Homo sapiens: one gene and its partner. The protein of the gene in region 2 interacts with the protein of the main gene of each other region in a pairwise test. Each region holds a gene or a part of one and is shown on either strand. Other genes may lie near its edges. The genes, in order: ORMDL1 and KCNK4.

The links.
Region 1: the proteins of KCNK4 (region 2) and ORMDL1 interact in binary tests that used the Homo sapiens proteins (3 or more experiments, as listed by UniProt).

The regions. Positions count from the first base shown.
Region 1 is NC_000002.12:189,771,779-189,774,378, forward strand, and holds part of ORMDL1 (ORM1-like protein 1), read right to left. Parts: intron 2,337-2,600; coding exon of another isoform or gene 2,327-2,336; exon of another isoform or gene 2,071-2,326; intron 125-2,070; coding exon 1-124. UniProt on the Homo sapiens protein: Plays an essential role in the homeostatic regulation of sphingolipid de novo biosynthesis by modulating the activity of the serine palmitoyltransferase (SPT) in response to ceramide levels.
Region 2 is NC_000011.10:64,289,768-64,294,169, reverse strand, and holds the start of KCNK4 (potassium channel subfamily K member 4), read right to left. Parts: upstream 2,869-4,402; 5' UTR 2,604-2,868; intron 2,449-2,603; exon of another isoform or gene 2,385-2,448; intron 2,173-2,384; exon of another isoform or gene 2,052-2,172; intron 1,229-2,051; 5' UTR 1,152-1,228; coding exon 963-1,151; intron 1-962. UniProt on the Homo sapiens protein: K(+) channel that conducts voltage-dependent outward rectifying currents upon membrane depolarization. Voltage sensing is coupled to K(+) electrochemical gradient in an 'ion flux gating' mode where outward but not inward ion flow opens the gate.

The DNA of each region.
Region 1 (2,600 bases), on a different chromosome or scaffold from region 2:
AATTCCAAAGATCCGAACACCATGTAGTTGTGGCATTTTGGGAATTAGTACACTCAGGAGAGAAGCTGTGTTTAGGATGAAGTGAGTTGGATCATACTTCGTATAGAAACTTGCCAGAAAATATCTGTAGAGATAAAAGTTAAGAATATATATAACATCCAAAAATAAAATTACTTGGAACTTAAACAATTTTAAAGGTAGAAAAAAAGGCCACTAAAGCATAAATACCTAAAAATGAAACTATTTTTGAGCACTAAAACAAGAGGAATCGGTTTGGTCCCAAGTTTATCTCATTAGGAACTAAAAAATTTGTTTAATGGAGGTCCACATTTTCCATTTCTGCAATTGTATTAAATACATTTAATAGAACACACTGCATCCTTTAAAGCAAGGCTTATCAAACTAGGGTTCATATGCCCTCTGTAATTACAGGTGTAGTTCTGTATTTCCATGTATGTTTCTGAAAAAGATATGGATTCAAAGCATTCATCTTATTCTCAAAAAGTTTTGTGACTCACAGGTTAAGAACCTGTACTGTAAAGCTCCAAAAAATGGGGTTTTAGTGCATTAGTACAATTCCTATCTTTGAAGGAAATAAATATTTGGTTGCCCTTTTGATGTTCTCATTTTCATACTGTAGTTGAGCAGCTCTATAACCAGTTTAACCGGTAACCTGAAAGACACTGTTGTACCATTCCAGCTGCTTTTTAATAATCAAATGCATGTATGTTTTTGGATATCCAACTGAGAATTTGTTTTAACAAGCCCCAAGCCTAAAAAGCACCTTTAAAATCATAAATCACCAAGTCCAGAATGTTTAGTTTTACCTACAGGTATATCATATCAAGGTGCAGACACATCATCTGATTACTAACAGAATAATACAGATAAGATGTAAAGAATAAAACATCATATCTTATTTGTTCATAATTAAGAAGTTAGTTTCTATTTAGGTCTTTGCAGTACGCAAGGAAAGTATTCTAATAGCCTTTACTGACATTAGTTTCTCATAAGGGAAAATAAATATCTTGTGTAACATGGTTAGAAGAGAGGAGCTACTTCCAAGTATGACAAAAAACATCACAAGAGAATTTTATACATTTTTAAAACCATCTAGATTGAGAAATTCTACAATCTTCCACCTATTTTGCAAACTACAGTCAGAAAATTCTTTCTCTAGTGTAAACCATATTCCTCAATTCTGAAATTCTTTCTTCCTGTTTTCATATATTTGAAGACTAAATTTATACTTCCTTTACTGAACAAAATAGGACATCACTTGCATTTAGCAAACTCATTTCATTTCCCACCATCATTACAGGTTGAATCTATAATCTGATAGGTTAGAAATAATAAATCTTATAATGGGTTCTTTTGACTATAACCTAGCATATGTCCCCTTTTTGTCTTTTAATTAAAACTAATTTTGTGTGTAGATTATATGAAAATTACTTGACTCTTTCAAAAACTTAGGCAATCCTCTGATGGTATGCAAAACCCAGGTGGGACTCAGTGTGACAACATTTATTTGCCAACAGCTATATTGGAAAGAGACCTGTATTACAAGATAGTAGTTTAGGGTTTAACCTGAGCTCTGAACTCCAACTAGGTGCAAGATCTTCAACAAGGTAATGCATTTGAGTCTGTTTCTTTACTTAAAAATCTGGAATATGGTGGCTCACCCTGTAATCCCAGCACTTTGGGAGGCCAAGGCAGGCGGATCACCTGAGGTGAGAAGTTCAAGACCAGCCTGGTCAACATGGTGAAACCCCATCTCTACTAAAAATACAAAAAGTAGCTGGGCACGGTGGTGCACGCCTGTAGTCCCAGCTACTGGGGAGGCTGAGGCAGGAGAATCGCTTGAACCTGGGAGGCGGAGGTTGCAGTGAGCCAAGATTATGCCACTGCACTCCGGCCTGGGCAGCAGAGCAAGACTCTTGTCTCAAAAAAAAAAAAAATTCTGGAATAACATTCCATGTCACACCTACCTGACAAATAATCAAATAAGAAAATGTGAAAGCACTGAAAAGTCCTAATGCTATATAGATGGCTTTAATGCTATTTCTTCAGTTAAGTAAGCAATTTAATCAGAATATTTGAAATCATACCTGTTGGTCAAAAATACATTTTGAGAAATATGGACACTGTATACAGGTACATCTCAGTTGGCTTTTTGTGTGATAGCTGTGATTAAAACTTCTGAATGTCAGGCATTTTACATGTATTATAATGCAATCCTCAATGTTTTACAGATGAGAAAACTGAGCTTTTGAAGAAAACGGCCAAAAGTCACAGAGCTTCAAAGGGGTTGAGCCAAAATCCAAATTCAGGGCCATCTGAATAACCAATATTTTTGTTATTACATGCATGCATGCATTCATTCACTTATTTATTTAATAAATCGGGTCTTGCTCTGTTGCCCAGACTGGAGTACAGCAGTGTGACTACAGCTCACTGCAGCCTCTTAACTCCTAGGCTCAAACCATCTTCCTGCCTCAGCTTCCCATGTAGCTTACATTTATTTTTATCAGACTACACTGACACTTTTCTTTGAGGTTAATATTATATGGGACTAAATCAATTCAAAATTTCCTCAAAGG
Region 2 (4,402 bases):
CCTTCTCCCCACATGGTAAGCATGCATGCTGGGGGAAGGGGCACCTGACCTGGCATTCCTGGTGGCATGGATCCTGGAACCCTCCCAAATCACCTGCACATGTTCATATGCACACTTTTCCAGGGGGAGGGGGTGTGTTCACCATGTTCTTGGGCTTTTCTAAGGCACATGACTCCAAGAAAAGTATGGGAACCGGTGTAGGTAGGGTTGCCAGATTTAGCAAACAAAAATATTGCTTGGGATGGACTTGTATTAAAAAGGCATTTGTGGGCCAGGTGTGGTGGCTCATGTCTGCAATCCCAGCACTTTGGGAGGCCGAGGCGGGTGGATCACTTGAGGTCAGGAGTTTGAGACCAGCCTGGCCAACATGGTGAAACCCCATCTCTACTAAAAACACAAAATTTAGCCGGGTGTGGTGATGAATCCCTGTAATACCAGCTGCTTGGGAGGCTGAGGCAGGAGAATCACTTGAGTCTGGGAGGCGGAGGTTGCTGTGAGCTGAGATCACACCACTGCACTCCAGCCTGGGTGACACAGGGAGACTCCGTCTCAAAAAAAAAGGCATTTGCAGTTTAACTGTAATTCATGTTTAAATGAGAGTCTTGGATTTTGTGTGGCAATCTAGACCGGTGAGTGAGACCTGTGCAAATGTAACATAGCCCATGCGCTATGGCCATTCATTCATTCATTCATTTCCCCCTCATCCCACCACCATCACACCCTGAAGGAGACATTATAGGTGCACAGTCCTGTGCCAGGCTCTCCAGGAAAACAAATGACCCCACAGTTGCCCTATTGAAAACACAGAGACCTGGTCCCCAGCCTCTGTCCCACAGCCTCCCACTGCACCCGTCCTCAGGGATACTGATCTGAAAGCAGCACTGGCACAGGGCCTCACTGGCACACAGCTAGCGCCAGGGGTGATGGGTGACAGCTGAAGGGGCTGCGGCCCACCCACGCACCTTGATGAGGAGGCCCAGCTCCTGGTCGCTCACACACGGATGGGCCCTCAGGAACTTCTCTCGGACCTCCCCCAGCTCCCTCTGGGCCTGCTGCTCGTGGGGCTGCTCCAGGGCCCGGAACACCAGGGCACCAGACACCAAGTAAAGCAAGACCAGCGCCAGCAGGGCCAGGAGCGTGGTGCTGCGCATGGCGCGCCCAGGCGCCGGGCCAGCTCCACTGCCCGCCTGGAGGGGCCGGGCGGGGGGCTCCTGGGGAGCTGTCGTCACTGCGGGCAAAACCAGGGATGCTGGGGTCACTGAGCTGGCCTGACACCCACACCCTCCTCCTCTATCCCCTACACACCCAAAGATCCATAAAGCCCCCAGCTGCACTGTCCACAGACATCCCTCTGGCTGGACACACCCAGTCCCCCTCCTATCTCCAGCCTTCCCCTTACCTCCGCTGCCCGGCCCTCAGCCCCTGTCTGGGACTACCGGGTGAGGAAAGAGAGGAGGGCACCGAGAAGGGAAAGGAAGGCGAGTGGGAGGCCGAAAGAGAGCCTAAGCCTGCCTAGGGGGAAGCGGGGCGAGCGAGGAAATGTGTGGAGCTTGGTGGGGGTGCGGGGAGCTGGCCCTCGAGGAGGAGGCTGAGGGGGCTCGGAGGCGTCCGAAGGGAAACCCGGAGGAGAGGCCGGACAGCGCAAGGCGGGGACAGGGGAATGGTGGGTCCCTGCTCGCCCGCTGCGGCTGTGACAGCATCTCCGCGGCTTCTCCGTCCCCTCTCGCCTCGCCCTGCTTCCTGGCTGGCCCTCCAGGGTGCCCCCGCGCCCCGCCGGGCTTTCGAGGAACCCAGGGGCGGGTCCCGGCCGCCGCACCCAGGCGAGGAGGGGTGCTGGGGACGCCCAGTTCCCGGAAAAAGCGGGGCGGGGGTCCGCAAAGGCCACACCGGGGCGACAGCCCCCGAGACAGCTGTCAGTCCGAGACAGCGGGCGGCGGCGCCCACGCGCACACACGCCCCGGCACGCGCCGCCAAGCGCGGGCACAAAGACCCGCGCGCCCACGCTCCATCCCGAGGCTGCAGCGCCGCGCCGCCCCGCTGCACGCACGCACCCCACCTGCACTCTCCGCAGACGCCCCGGCATCCCCGGCCCCCATGGGCGTGCCGGCCGCGCCAGGGCACCCAGAGCCCACGCACACGTGTGTGGACACTAGCGTGCACACGCCAGACAGCAGGGCCACCGCGCAGCGCCCGCAGCTCGCTCCCACCGCCTCCCCCGCGTCCGCACAGCGACGCCTCGGAGCGTGGCGGGCGGCGGGACCGGCGGCCACACCACTCCCGGAGGCGCCCACGCGCGAGAGGTGGGCACCCCGCCCGGCCAGTCGCCCCTGGGGCGTCCCTGCCCCTGAGTCCTGCCCGCGCACCGGAGCCCGCACCGCACTTACTGTCGGCCCCGCTGCGGCTGCGGCTGAGGCCCGGGTTCCAGCACGGCCTCGCCGGTGCCGACTGGGCCGCGGAGGCGGCAGGGGCGGAGCGGGCGGCCGCCGGGGCTGGGACCCCCCTCCCGCCGGCAGAAGCCCCCCTCCTCCCGCGGTTAACCCCTCCGGCGCCGCGCTTCCCTCCGTGCAGCGCCCTCGCCGCCGGCGCCGCCCCAAGCCGTTTACCTGCGGCCGCCTGGCTCCCCACAGCCGGCCAGCCCCGGGAGGTGGGTGGCAGAGGAGCCGGAGAGGGGTTGCAGCAGGGGCCAGCCTTCTAGCCTTGGACCGGAGCCCAGTGTGGCCAGCGGCAGGGCCCCGACCTGGGCATCAGCTGGCCCGTCTCTCCGGACAGGCACCACGCTAATCTGGCATCTCCCAGGCCCATTACCGGATCGGGAAGGGTCCGCAACTCTCCGCCCCTGGGGACAGCCTGGCCCTTGGGCTCAGCACTCATGAGGGAGGGGCTCCGCGGGACAAAGGGGTGGGGGAAACCCGGTGGGGCCACCTGGAATTGGCCGACGTGGAGGTTGGGACCCACCTCTGGGGGAGTTGCTGCTGGAGCACCTCCTGCCCCCACTCCAGGTTTTGGCCCTCTACCTGCTCCCCGGCTATCCCTCCAGGGTGCTCCCTGCCCCAGCTTTTGGTTCTCACTTCCATGCCCAGAAATCAGCCCCGGAAGGCTGTGGCTGAAGCTGCCTGCAGATCCCAGCATGGCACTGGTGCCAGCATCCACTCTCCCACTGCCTGAACACCCAGGCCCTGGCTGGTCCTGAACTTGCCCCGCCCTGTTCTCACCCACTTGACAACCTGTGACCTCTCCAAAGACCCTCTGGTGCCTGCTGGGGTCCTCAGCCCTCATGCTGGATGGCTTTCAGCCTGGGCTTTGAGGCTGACCACCCGCTACTGGTAGGGAACCTGAACAGGTTACCAAACTCTGGAGTCTCCCTGTTCCCACTTACAGAAAAGGGATGATTAATCATCACTTCGGGGTGCTGTTCTGGGCATTAAGGAGGCCAGTGTTTAGAAATCCTCAAAACAGAGCCTGGCACACACAATAAAGTGCCCCACAAACGTTAGCAGTTTTTATTTCAACAAAAAGTGATTGTCCAGCTTCAAGCTGATTCTCTATGAGTCTCAGATGCCCTCTCTGGAGGCCCTGAGGGCCTGGTGCCCAGGATGGTCCCAAGTAAAGGGTTTTGAAGCAGGCCCAGTGATAAGCCAAGGGAACTCTGAAAAGCTGGGACAACCACCTATGTGGGCAGGGGACAGACCCTCCAGCAAAGGACTCCTAGCCATCAGACAGACCTGCCAGGGCCATGGAAGCAGAGGGCAGTGACTATGCTACTAAGGACAGTGGAGAAGAGGGCTAACGGGAGGGCATAGCTAGGGGACCACCTGTACATCTGGGCAAACCCACGCCCTGGTAGGAAGATGGGGGCTGCTCAGTCACTGCGCCAACTCCCCAGCAAGCCCTGGACTAACTCCTGACTCCTAAAGACCAGGTTGGGGTGGTGATAGGGAAACAGGGCCTCCAGAAAGTCTAATCCATTGGGGTTAAGACTCAGAAGCTGCCAGGCATGGTACCTCATGCCTGTAATCCCAGCACTTTGGGAAGCTGAGGTGGGTGGATTGCTTGAGCCCGGGGGTTCGACACCAGCCTGGGCAACATGGTGAAACCCCACCTCTAAAATTAAAAATTAAAAAATTAGTCAGGAATGGTGGCATGTGCCTGTATTCCCAGCTACTCGGGAGGCTGAGGCAGGAGGATTGCTTGAGCCTGGTAGGTTGAGGCTGCAGTGGGCCATGATCGTGCCACTGCACTCCAGTCTGAGTGACAGAGTGAGACCCTGCTTCAAAAAACAAAACAAAACAAAGAACCTCAATGGCCACATAATCAGTAATGTGGAGCTGTGGGGCCCAGCAGAGGGGCCATGTCCCTTGACCAGGAGACAGAAGGCTTCCTAAAGGAGGTAACAGTTGACGCA